Regions from separate parts of the Homo sapiens genome. Here all the other regions are linked to region 1. The links come from fine-mapping of genetic effects on gene expression. A gene starts in region 1. Each other region holds a variant in brackets. All regions are shown on one strand. Distances are from middle to middle.

Region 1 (2,684 bases):
GGTGTGACAAGAGCACATAAAAAGTCTCCCTCTTCTCCTGAAGTACTGAGCACAACATTTTAGATGGGACAGATTCAGACAACTGTCACTAATGGGATGCCACATCTCTCTGTGCTACATTCTGGAAACTTCGCAGGCCCACCCTGAGCTTTAACAATCGCCCCTCCGCAGCCCCCAAGGAGAAACACAGGCGGCAGGAAGGGAGGAGTCCTCATTCTTAGCTGAGCAGCTCGCCTCATAGACAGATGACATATTCCTCCCATATACTACCTAAGCGCATTAGCTCCGCGACCTGGGGCCTTGACTTTGTCTGCAGACATCCAAGCCCTCCAATCTCCCAGGTTCCCTACTGGTACCCCACCAAACGCTGGGCTCTAAGACTATTTCCTCCTACACGTCTGCCCGCGCGCCTCCAGTCCCATGTGGCCCCTCCACTAGTTTCTGCGCTCGGGCTGGAGTCGCCAGGGAATGATTTCCAGTCCGCACGCGGGGACCGGGAGCCAACTGTACTGACATGTTTCCAGGATAAAACCAAATTTGCAGGTGGGGCACAGAAAAGAATCAGGCAAGTTGTTCTTTCCAGCAGCCCCGGCCATCTGCCCGAAACGGGGCAGGAAGGGTAAGAAGGAGCGCGCGGGAGCCAGGGTGTGCCGGCTCCCAGGCACAGGGCGCAGCGCGCAAGGACCCTGGGGCTCACCCTGTGCCCGGCCCGCCCGCGTCGAGCCCCGGAGGCGCCGGCGTGCGTCCTTACCATTCAGCTGCCGGTACACGATGTCCTCCAGCAGCGACAGGCGCTTCAGGACCGCATCCTGGATGGGGCTGGCGCTGTGCGCGCTGAGGTTGGCCACCTCGGCGCGCGGCCGGATCTCGTGGAAGGCGTCTCCGCTGCGCACCGCGATGGGCCGGCACTTGGCCAGGAAGAGCACGAAGCCGGCTACCGCGATCAAGTTCAACACCAACAGCACTTTGACTCTTCTCAGTGAAGCCATCAAACAGCCCGGCCGGCCCTCGCCCCGGACCTGCGCCCCCTCGGGCTCCGGCGAGGCGCGGGGCAGCCAGGGGCCGTGCAAGCCTCACACACCAGACGGCCGGCAGGGATCCAAGCCCCTGCTCGTCCCACCTCAAGGATGCTCGGGCGGCGGAGACGGCTGGGAGGTCGGATTGGTGGTGGGGAGAACGGAATCGCTCACATGGAAGTCCTCGCTCTGCAGAAGTGCTCCCCGAGACGCCTGCTCAGTCCACGGCGCACGGCCCCGTCCAGGCGTCTCCGCGAAAGGCCAGGGATTTGAGGGTTTCTCTTCTGCACCAGCAAGTGGTTCGCCTCTGGACCTCTAGCCGCCGGCGCCGCGGACTCCGAGGCCGGCAGGCGGGGCTGCCCGGGAGGCACAGAGGGAGCGGCGCACAGGTGCCGGACTCAGGGATCGCCGCCCGCCCACGGCGGAGCGCGCCGCGCCTGGGGCCGCACAGCCTCCCACCTTGGCCCGCAGGCGGCCGTCGCGGCGCGCCACCCGCGCTCTTCAGCGGAAGACCCGCTCCCCCGGGCAGGCGCCTTTGTTCCGCTCACCGACCCGCTCCATCGCGCCGGGCAGAGGGGAAGCCCGCTCGGGGAGCCCGCATCCTCCAGGCTCCGCAGTCACGCTCAAGTCTCAATTACTCTCAAAGTGGGGGCAGCACTAGGGGGCGGGCGCCGGGCCGAGCGCTACGTCCTCTCCGCCCCCCGCGCGGAGTCCACCCCACCCCGCCGGCAAACTCACCAGCGCTCACAGCGCCGCCGGCTCCCGGACACGTTCCAAGCCCCCAAACCGCGCCGAGAGCCTTCGGGGCCTTCAGGGCACACCGGCCTGTCTCGGAGCTGGCGCGTCGCGAGGCTGGCCGGAAGGAGTCGGACCTCAAAAGTCACAGCAGTTCTCTACCCCCTCCCAAAACGTCGCGGGCAGCGCGGCGGGGAGGTACGCGTGCCGAATCACCCTCCGCTCGCCAGATCCGGCCGCGCGGCTCGTCCCGCGCCCCCGGGAGCCAAAACGCCGAGTCTCCCAATTGGCGGACGCGGTGACACCGCCGCTGCGGCACCGAGAGCCACACAGCCCCGGAGCTGAGGAGCCCGGAGGGGACGCGCAGGTGGCGGCGGAGGGCGGGGCGCGGCCCGAGGGGAGCGGCGGCGGCGCCAGCTCCTCCTCCGCCGCTCTTCGCCACCCTGTCCCCGAGAGGCTGTCGGCGGCCGCCGCCGCCGCCCGCAGGCTGCCGAGCGCACAGCTCCCCGGTTCGCCGACTCGTGCGCGCGCGCACCCGGGCAGGGCGGGGGCTTCTGGAGAGTGGGGACCGCGCGGGATGGAGGCAGTCAAGGCATGCTGGCTGCGGCCGGCGCTGGAGGGACCCTTTAGTTCTCAGTACTCCCTGAGCGGGCGGGTTCGTTCCATCCCGGTTGGCGATGAAGACATCCTTTTCTGTGTGCTCGCGGCTCCGCGCTGCGTGGCCAGGAATGGCTAGAGGGAAAATCTGGCCTGGAGGCTCGGATTCTGAGACCTTCGGAGCCAGGCCGGGCGTGAGCGGGCTTGGGGGGGTTCTCTGCGTGCAAGAATTCTAACCTCCCCAGTCACTGCTTCTAGGCCCACCCGCTGCTCTGTTCAAATTTTATTATAAGAAGCATATTCATTTGGCTCCTGGTTTTCCACTACCTCTTCCTC
Region 2 (2,684 bases), 110 kb before region 1:
AGGCAAAATCTCACTTATACAGGGTAGGAGTGCAAAGATACCTTTGCAAAAAAAAAAAAAAAACCTGCTCTCTTGCTCTCTGCAGACCTTTCCCAATTCACACCAGTCTTCCCCTATTGATTTCTCCTGTTTTTACTGAGTGATCTCTGTGCTCCTCTTTAAAAGAATTTTCCACCTCCAGAAGCTAATTTGAAATACTAATTTACACACAGAACTCACCTTCATTATCTCTAGCCTTTGCCCATTAAAGAGACAGAAAAATCTAAACCAGTTCAGTCCCCAGTGTCCACAGGGCGTTAACCTTCAGAGACCCAGAACTAGAGGTTGCACATACGCCCAGAGATTGCTCCCAAGTCTCCACTCTTTCACAGCAAAGCATTATTTTTTCACCTAGATTTGGCCAGACATGGCCAAATTTTCCACCTGCCTCCCCCTTTTCCAAACATCCCAAGGACAACAAATGTGCCTGGAATGTCACCATGAGCATAGACTACTCCATACCTGTGCCCTTCTTTACACCCGTGGATGACAGGCAGCACAAAGTAAAAATGGCAACAACATTCTGCCTCACAAAATTAGGATGGTTTTTTAAAATAGTCTCTCTTTTTAGCACACTCTCTTAGCACGGCCCCCACAGAATCTTCCCACTTGGTATAGATCATGTGTGGGGTTAGAAAAGCCCACAGACTTCAGTCATATTATTGTCGACAATGACAAAGGCTCCACCAAGCGAGTGGATGGAGGACGAGGGCAGATGGGTGCCAAAGACTTAGAACGTAATTATTTCAACCACTTATTATCCAGGAGCCAAGAAAAGAACACAGATACCAAGAGGCATTTGGAAGGTCCTAGAGTGGGGCTAGGTGACATCGATTAATTGCTTTTCCTGAGAAACATCCATTTCTTCCTAGGGGTCCTTCCCAAAAGACAGAGGTTTTTTTTGGTTGATTTTTTTTTTTCTGGAGATAGGGTCTCGCTCTGTATCCCAGGCTGGAGTGCAGTGGTGCCATGATAGCTCAATGCAGCCTTGAACCCCTGGGCTCAAGTGATCCTCCCGTCTTGGCCTCCCAAGCAACTAGAACTACAGGTGTGCACCACCATGCCCAGTTAATTTTTAAATTTTTTTGTAGAGATAAGGTCTCACTATGTTGCCCAGGCTGGTCTCCAGTTCCTGGCCTTAAATGATCCTTCCACCTCAGTGTTGCAAGCATGAGCCACCGCACCTGGGCAACTTTTAATCCAAGTATTGGGAATGGGAGGGATCCCAGTCTCTGCCTTCATTCTAAAATCTTCATTTCCACAAAGTTGTCACGTAATCTCTCTTCATTCCTCACCATAAGCCTAAGGGGTTGGCATTTTTATTATCTCATTTTATTTACAGATGGGGATAAAGGAGTGGGATGACTTGCTCAAGGTCACACAACTAATAAAGGGCAGAGTTGAGGTTCAAACTCAGATCTGTGTGTCTCCAAAGACTCAGCTCCTGACCATCAGGCTCTCTTCTCTCTTACTGGAATGCTCCCAGAAAATAAAAGAGCCGTGAAACCAAACGCTACAGTGTTAGGTGT[C/T]AGAACTCCAAATGCCAGGAATTACTGAAATGTCTTAGTGTCAATCAACCCTTAATGACCTTGGCAAGCATTCTCCCTGATGACAGCAGACCCAGAGAGAATGAGCAAGTGGGAGCCAAGAAGGATGCATTGAACTAGAAGAGTTCAGGAGGTGCCTGTGCAGCCAGGCAGGATCTGGACGGAGCAGAGCTGGGCATGCAGTAGCAGCAGGCGGATGCTGGAGCAGTTCTGTATCCACACTCTCTTCTTAACTGCTAAACTGCTCTAGTCACTCCCTTCCTAAACACAGGCACAGAAAACGCCACCTCTAACCCTGCACCTCCATCTCCCTTTCCCCAGTTCTCAATCCAATTTCTTGGCATAGTCATCCACATCGGTTCCATTTTCCCATTTTCTCATTTCACACCCCACCCCACTTCAATCTGGCTTCCACAAACTCTTGATCCTGCCAACGACATCATGACCTCATCATGGCCAAATTCAATAGACTTGTTTCAGTCCTTTTATGAACAGACATTTTTCATTTTTGCACAAGTTTGGCCGTTGTTTTTTCTCATTCCTCATACTATCTGCCCCCAAATGTGCTGTTTTATGAGGTCTCAAAAAGGAAAATAAGAACAAGATCGAAGGAAGTTAAAGGGCTGGATGCAGCAGCACCCACCTGTAGTCCCAGCTACTCTGGAGGCCAAGATGGGGGGGTCACTTGAACTCAGGAGTTTGAGTCCAGCCTGGGCAACTTAGCAAGACCCCATCTCAATAAGAAAAGAAAAGACAAGAAAAGAAAAGAGAAACAATAGCAAAGGAAGTTGAAGGATTGCATATTTCTGCTTGTGGAAAAGAAACCTTTAGTAGAATTAAGGTCGCCCAACATGTTATACATCATAAAGCAAGCCGGAATTATATTAGACAAGAATGATGAGCAGACACTGAAATCATTGAAGAGTAGATGTATTAGTCTATTTTCGCACTGCCATAAAGACATATCTGAGACTGGGTAATTTATAAAGAAAAGAGGTTTAATTATAAAGAAAAGAGGTAATTTATAGAGAAAAGAGATTTAATTGACTCACAGCTCCACATGGCTGGGGAGGCCTCAGGAAACTTACAATCATGACA
Region 3 (2,684 bases), 360 kb before region 1:
ACTGTCCTTAAAAGAAGAGGAAATGGACAGAGACACACCCAGAATGTGACTGAGGAAAGACTGTGAGGCCCCAGAGAGAAGACAGCCTTCGACAAGCCAAGGAGAGAGGCCTCAGAAAGAACCAACGCTGCTTGCATGCTCATCTCGGATTTCTGGCCTCCAGAGTTGTGAAAAAATAAATGTTTCTTGTTTAAACCACTTAATCTATGCTATGGCACACAGTTTGCACAATGTGTGTTATGGCAGCATTAGTGGATTAGTGCACAGAAGAAGGTCAGCTCATTGCAGATACAAATGTCAAATGTATCCAGTCCTGGCTCCCAGTTAGAGGATGAGGACCCACATCTCCCTCCCTAGACAAATTTCCTAACTTTCAGATCATTTTCCTAACTTTCAGATCATTTTCTTCTTTTAGAGAGAGAGATTCAGGGTCTCACTGTGTCACCAGTGGCTTGATCATAGCTCACTGCAGCCTCAAAGTCCTGGGCTCAAGTGATCCTCCTGCCTCAGCCTCCTGAGTAGCTGGGACTACAGGTGCATGCCATCATACTTGGTTATTTTTTTTTTTTAATTTTTGTATAGACATGGTCTCGCTACTTTGCCCAGGCTGGTCTCAGACTCCTGGCCTCGAGCAATCCTCCTGCCTTGGCCGCCCAAAGTGCTAGGATTACAGGTGTAAGTGCTCCGCCCCCCGCTCCCCACCCCACCCCATCCGGCCCAGGTCATTTTCAGTGATTGATATTTAGGCCGGTTCAATTGAGAACACTGAACTCACTCTGTTTTCATGGCTCTTATGCTTCCTCAGGGCAGCTGGGGGCTTAGGACAGGAAAGAGGGTGCTGTCTGTTTCTGTAGTGCCTTCCTCCTCACCCTCCCTCATGGTCTCTCTCCTCCACTCCTTTCAGGTTGGGCTTCGGGGAAGGAGGGCAGGTGGAAAGGAAGGCGGAGATCATTTCTATGTCACTGGACGATGTCTGTGCGGAGAGGGGTCTCTGTCCTCATTTTGACTTCCTTTGGTTCAACCTGTGGCTAGTGACCTCACCAATACGTGAGGTCCACCAAACAGGTCCTATGCCCTGCTGTTTCTCTAGAAAGATGCTCCCCTCAAATGCTAAAGATGTCTCCCCACCCCCACCAGAGTAAGACAGCCCGGTCTCCAACTGGCCCACTGATGCTTTGAGCCAGCACAAACTCTGGGGCCTGGCTCCCAGCTGCTGGCCCCTTCTGCCACCTGGGGATTCCCTTGATCCCCCGGCCTCCCCACTGCAGGGTCCTTCACATTCAAGTCCTGGGAGCTGCTGAAGTCCTCTTCCCTGTGCAACTAAGACAGGGCAACTAAAATAATAGTACATTGGGGCTGTTCTTGTCTCTCTAAGTCTCGACCATCTGTAGGACGAAAAGAGCACATGGGTTCCCAGTGCTTTCTCTTCCTGCTGGAGCCCCCACAGATGGTGTTCCCATGCCTTCTGGCCTTGCCATTCAATATCAGCAACAGCAGGGGTGGGCAGCAGCGGACATCACGAACCTTGGCAGGCTGGACTCTCAATATTCTTTGCTTCTCAAGGACATCATTTACATC[T/C]GCCCTGGTGGCACCTGCTGATCCCTGGACTTCCCATTTTTATCAGTCTCTAGACCAAAATCAGATACTCCTGGAGTCCTCTCTTCCCTACCCTGCAATTCCCTATACAATTGGAGACAGGAAGGGAAAGTGGCCATGATATGTAGGAAAGGCATTATTACGATGCCCAATTCAAGCAGAGGAATGATCAGCCTCTACATGTGACCATCAAGCATCCTCCAGTTACTGGGAATGAGCCAAGGTATAGTGCTCCCATTCCAGGCCGGGTCAGGAGATCAGTCATTAGGGGCCTGGCCACTGGGGATCAGACCTCGGCCCTGCACTTAAATTCAGCTCTGTTGCCTACTAGTCCTGGGCATGCTATCTTAACCTCTTTCTGCCTGACTTGTAAAATAAAAATAATGATAATAATAATGCCTCCCCACCGAGGTTATTTTGATTAATTATGTTACTAATCCATAGACAGATGTTAGCAGCACAATGCCTGGCACACATTAAGTGCTCAAAAAAGAAAACTGCTATGGTTGTCATTGCTATTATCACAGAATATGGAGTACAGTGTCTTTGCTTGTCTTCTGATATGGCTTGGCTGTGTCCCCACCCAAACCTCACCTTTTCTTTTCTTTTTTTTTTGAGATGGTGTCTTGCTCTGTCACCCAGGCTGGAGTGCAGTGGCACAGTCTCAGCTCACTGCAGCCTCTGCCTCCTGGGTTCAAGCATTTCTCCTGCCTCAGCTTCCCAAGTAGCTGGGACTACAGGTGTGCACCACCATGCCCAGCTAGTTTCTGTATTTTTTTTAGTAGAGACAGGGTTTCACTATGTGTTAGCCAGGCTGGTCTCAAATTCCTGACCTCAGGTGATCTACCTGCCTCAGTCTCCCAAAGTGATGGGATTACAGGCATGAGCCACTGCACCTGGCCCCAAATCTCACCTTGATTTGTACCAGGTGGAGACAATTGAATCATGGGGGCAGTTGCCTCCATACTGTTCTTGTGGTAGTGAGTAAGTCTCACGCGATCTGATGGTTGTATAAACGGGAGTTCCCCCGCACAAGCTTTCCTGCCTGCTGCCATGTAAGACGTGACTTTGCTCATTTGCCTTCAGCC
Region 4 (2,684 bases), 88 kb before region 1:
AGTTTCTGGGTCAGATTCCTCCACTGCAGAAGCATGCTGACATCAGCCTGACCACTGCACTATCAATTAGTCCCTTATGGTCAGTCCATAGCAGGGAGAATCTATGGATTTACAAGGACAAGAAAGCAAAAGGAGACTGCAGACAGGCAACACGAACAGAAGTTTGAAAGAAGAAATGAAGGAGAAGTCAGCCGAGTGGAATTCCAATTGGCTACGGAGGGAGATGTTAATTCATGCCCAGGACCCCAGAGAGGAGGCTCCGGGAGGTGAGGAACAAGTTGTAGGGTTGGAAAAAAAAAAAAAAAAAAAAAAAGCATGGCTGTAATTCTGTATAAGGTTACATGGAATCAACCTAAATGCCCATCAATGACAGATTGGATAAAGAAAATGTGGTACACATACACCATGAAATACTATGCAGCCATGAAAAAGGAGATCCTGTCTTTTGTGGGAACATGGATAGAATGCTGCTCTCCCCTTAGTCCTCCATAGTCCACCCCTGTGCCAATTCCACCCAGACAGCTGAGTACCTCCCACTAGGGGCTCCAGGGCTGGGGTCCCAGGCACAGAAAAGGGCAAGGGGTAATGGGAGCAAAGGAAAGTTCCATGAAAGTCTAGATCCCAGATGGAGAGTCCTGAGCTCCTTCATGAGGCTCAGCGCCCAGCATGCACACAGCAGGCCTAGACTCCCAGCAGAATACTAGAAGTTTCCTCTCTAGGAAAACTGAATAGCCCTAGAGGAAAGATCTATAGATATGGGTATTTGGGCTTCACTTCATATATTAGTTTGCCATTACAAACTAATACAGAGGGGGGTGTATTGAACACCAGAAATTTATTTTTTCACAGTTCTGGAGGCTGAAAGTCCAAGCTGTCAGCAGGGTTGGTTTCATTCTGAGACGTCTCTCCTTGGCTTGTAGATGGCTGTATCTTCCAAGTGTCTTCACATGGTCTTCCCCCTGTGTGTCTGTGTCCTAATCTCCTTTTCTTACGAGGACACCAGGCATATTGGATTAAGGGCCACCCCAGTGACCTCGTTTAACTCCCATTTTCTCTTTCAAAGCCCTATCTCCAAGTACAGACACATTCCGAGATACTTGAGGTTAGGACCATAAAAGTATGCCTCTGCTGACAGATAAAATGAACTACACCCCATGGCTATTTAGGGTGAGTTAGAGCAGAACCAGGTGGTCATGGCTGGGTGAAGGTTCAGTCGCATACACTGTGTTCTCAGAAAGATGTTATGAA[A/G]GTCACGTACAATGTGTTCTCAGAAAGATGTTATGAAAATATCACAGGACCTCCCTTTCTACAATCAAGCCAAACCAGTTTCTGTTGTTGGTGCCAAGATAAACTGAAGCAAGAATTCCCCCACCTCCCAACTGGCCTTTTGAAAGGTCTAACAGAGACTTCTGGTTTGGGGCTTGGAAACCAACCAATCAGAGCTCACCCGCTCCATCCAGTCAGGGTTCAACCACATCAACCAGTCATGATTCGGCTGTGTGACCAACCAGAACTAAGCAAGTCCAAATCCTTCATTTGCATAAATGGACTTAATTGGGAACCTCAGCAGGGAGTTTTGCTATAAACCCTGAACGTATTTGTTCTCTGGAACTCACCTTTGTTTTACACCAAAGACGTGGCTCCCTTGTTTGCAAACTATTCACTGGAATGAAGTCTCTTTCCTCCAAATTACTTTTCAGAGAACTTAGGTTCACAGGACTCAACAAATGAATTTTGGAGGGACATAATTCATTTCATACACCCAGCAAAACAGCCATCCACCTGCCAGAGCACCTACCAGTGAGAACCATTGGCTTCCTCTTACCACCACAATGCACAGAAAGCTACCAAACATATTAGTGCCTTCCTCATAAATACAAAAGAACAAAGCATCACCAGACATTTGAGGAAAATAAAAATATGAGGACAGACATAAAAGCCTACAAATAGGTAAAATACACTTGGAGCAAGGAGTAGACAGACCCCTTGCAGAACACAAGGGAAACCCCCTTATCATCCTCAGAGAATCGAGGGAAAGATACCATATTCATTAAACAAGAACAGGATACTTAGAAAAAGGAAAAGTCAGGAAATAAGAAAGGCTCTTGGAAATTAAATATAACAAAAAATTTAAAACTCCAGAAGAGTTGGAAGATCAAATTGAAGAAATTTTTCAGAAAATTAAATTAAAAGACCAAAAAAAGTGAGAGAATAAAAAGCAAGTGATCAACTGAGATCTAGCACCTGACACAGAAGCATTCCAGAAAGAGATAACAGAGATGGCAGAGGAAACAAAGGTTTAATTTTAAAAATCTACTAGAACCAAAGATTCTGAGAAAGTAAACCAAAAATAAGAAAGAGATACACATATTGGTAAAGGCTAGAATGAGGCTGGTTCTTGGGCTCTTCATCACTCTTAATGACAATGCAGTAGACAGGAGAGATTGTTTGGGTGTGAATCTGACTCCACCCCCTTGGAAGAATTACCCTCAAGTTATTTAACCTCTCTATGCTTCACTTACCTAATTTGTAAAATGAAAGCAAAAATAGTGTTTACCTAATAGAGTTGCTGCAAATATCATATGAGATGGGACATCTGAGGTGACTGTCACGTAGTACCTGGTCAATAAATGTGAGTTATTGTCACTACAGCAGTCCCCAACCTTTTTGGCACCAGGGACAAG

Which allele goes with the higher level. Alleles are on the strand shown, and positions count from the first base shown. SD is a standard deviation of normalised expression in the study named. Not every link is listed here.
As copies of C replace T in region 2, the expression in skeletal muscle of the gene that starts at base 1,648 in region 1 goes down (moderate effect, 0.57 SD a copy in GTEx).
As copies of G replace A in region 4, the expression in testis of the gene that starts at base 1,648 in region 1 goes up (moderate effect, 0.61 SD a copy in GTEx).

Evidence for each region. PIP is the estimated chance that this variant, and not a neighbour inherited with it, causes the effect.
Region 2: its variant is fine-mapped to the expression of GALNT17 in skeletal muscle (GTEx, PIP above 0.99).
Region 3: its variant is fine-mapped to the expression of GALNT17 in spleen (GTEx, PIP above 0.99).
Region 4: its variant is fine-mapped to the expression of GALNT17 in testis (GTEx, PIP above 0.99).

The regions. Positions count from the first base shown.
Region 1 is chr7:71,131,108-71,133,791 of GRCh38, reverse strand. GALNT17 (polypeptide N-acetylgalactosaminyltransferase 17) reads right to left here and starts at 1,648. Exons shown (of 11, transcript NM_022479.3): 1 at 752-1,648. The coding sequence starts at 989.
Region 2 is chr7:71,243,228-71,245,911 of GRCh38, reverse strand. All of the region lies in intron 1 of GALNT17 (polypeptide N-acetylgalactosaminyltransferase 17), which reads right to left. Among named protein-coding and RNA genes, the nearest start is that of MIR3914-2, 63 kb to the left of the region's middle. The variant C/T (reference allele first, on the strand shown) is at 1,569.
Region 3 is chr7:71,494,803-71,497,486 of GRCh38, reverse strand. The region is part of intron 5 of GALNT17 (polypeptide N-acetylgalactosaminyltransferase 17); the gene reads right to left. Among named protein-coding and RNA genes, the nearest start is that of MIR3914-1, 190 kb to the right of the region's middle. The variant T/C (reference allele first, on the strand shown) is at 1,579.
Region 4 is chr7:71,219,013-71,221,696 of GRCh38, reverse strand. The region is part of intron 1 of GALNT17 (polypeptide N-acetylgalactosaminyltransferase 17); the gene reads right to left. Among named protein-coding and RNA genes, the nearest start is that of MIR3914-2, 87 kb to the left of the region's middle. The variant A/G (reference allele first, on the strand shown) is at 1,249.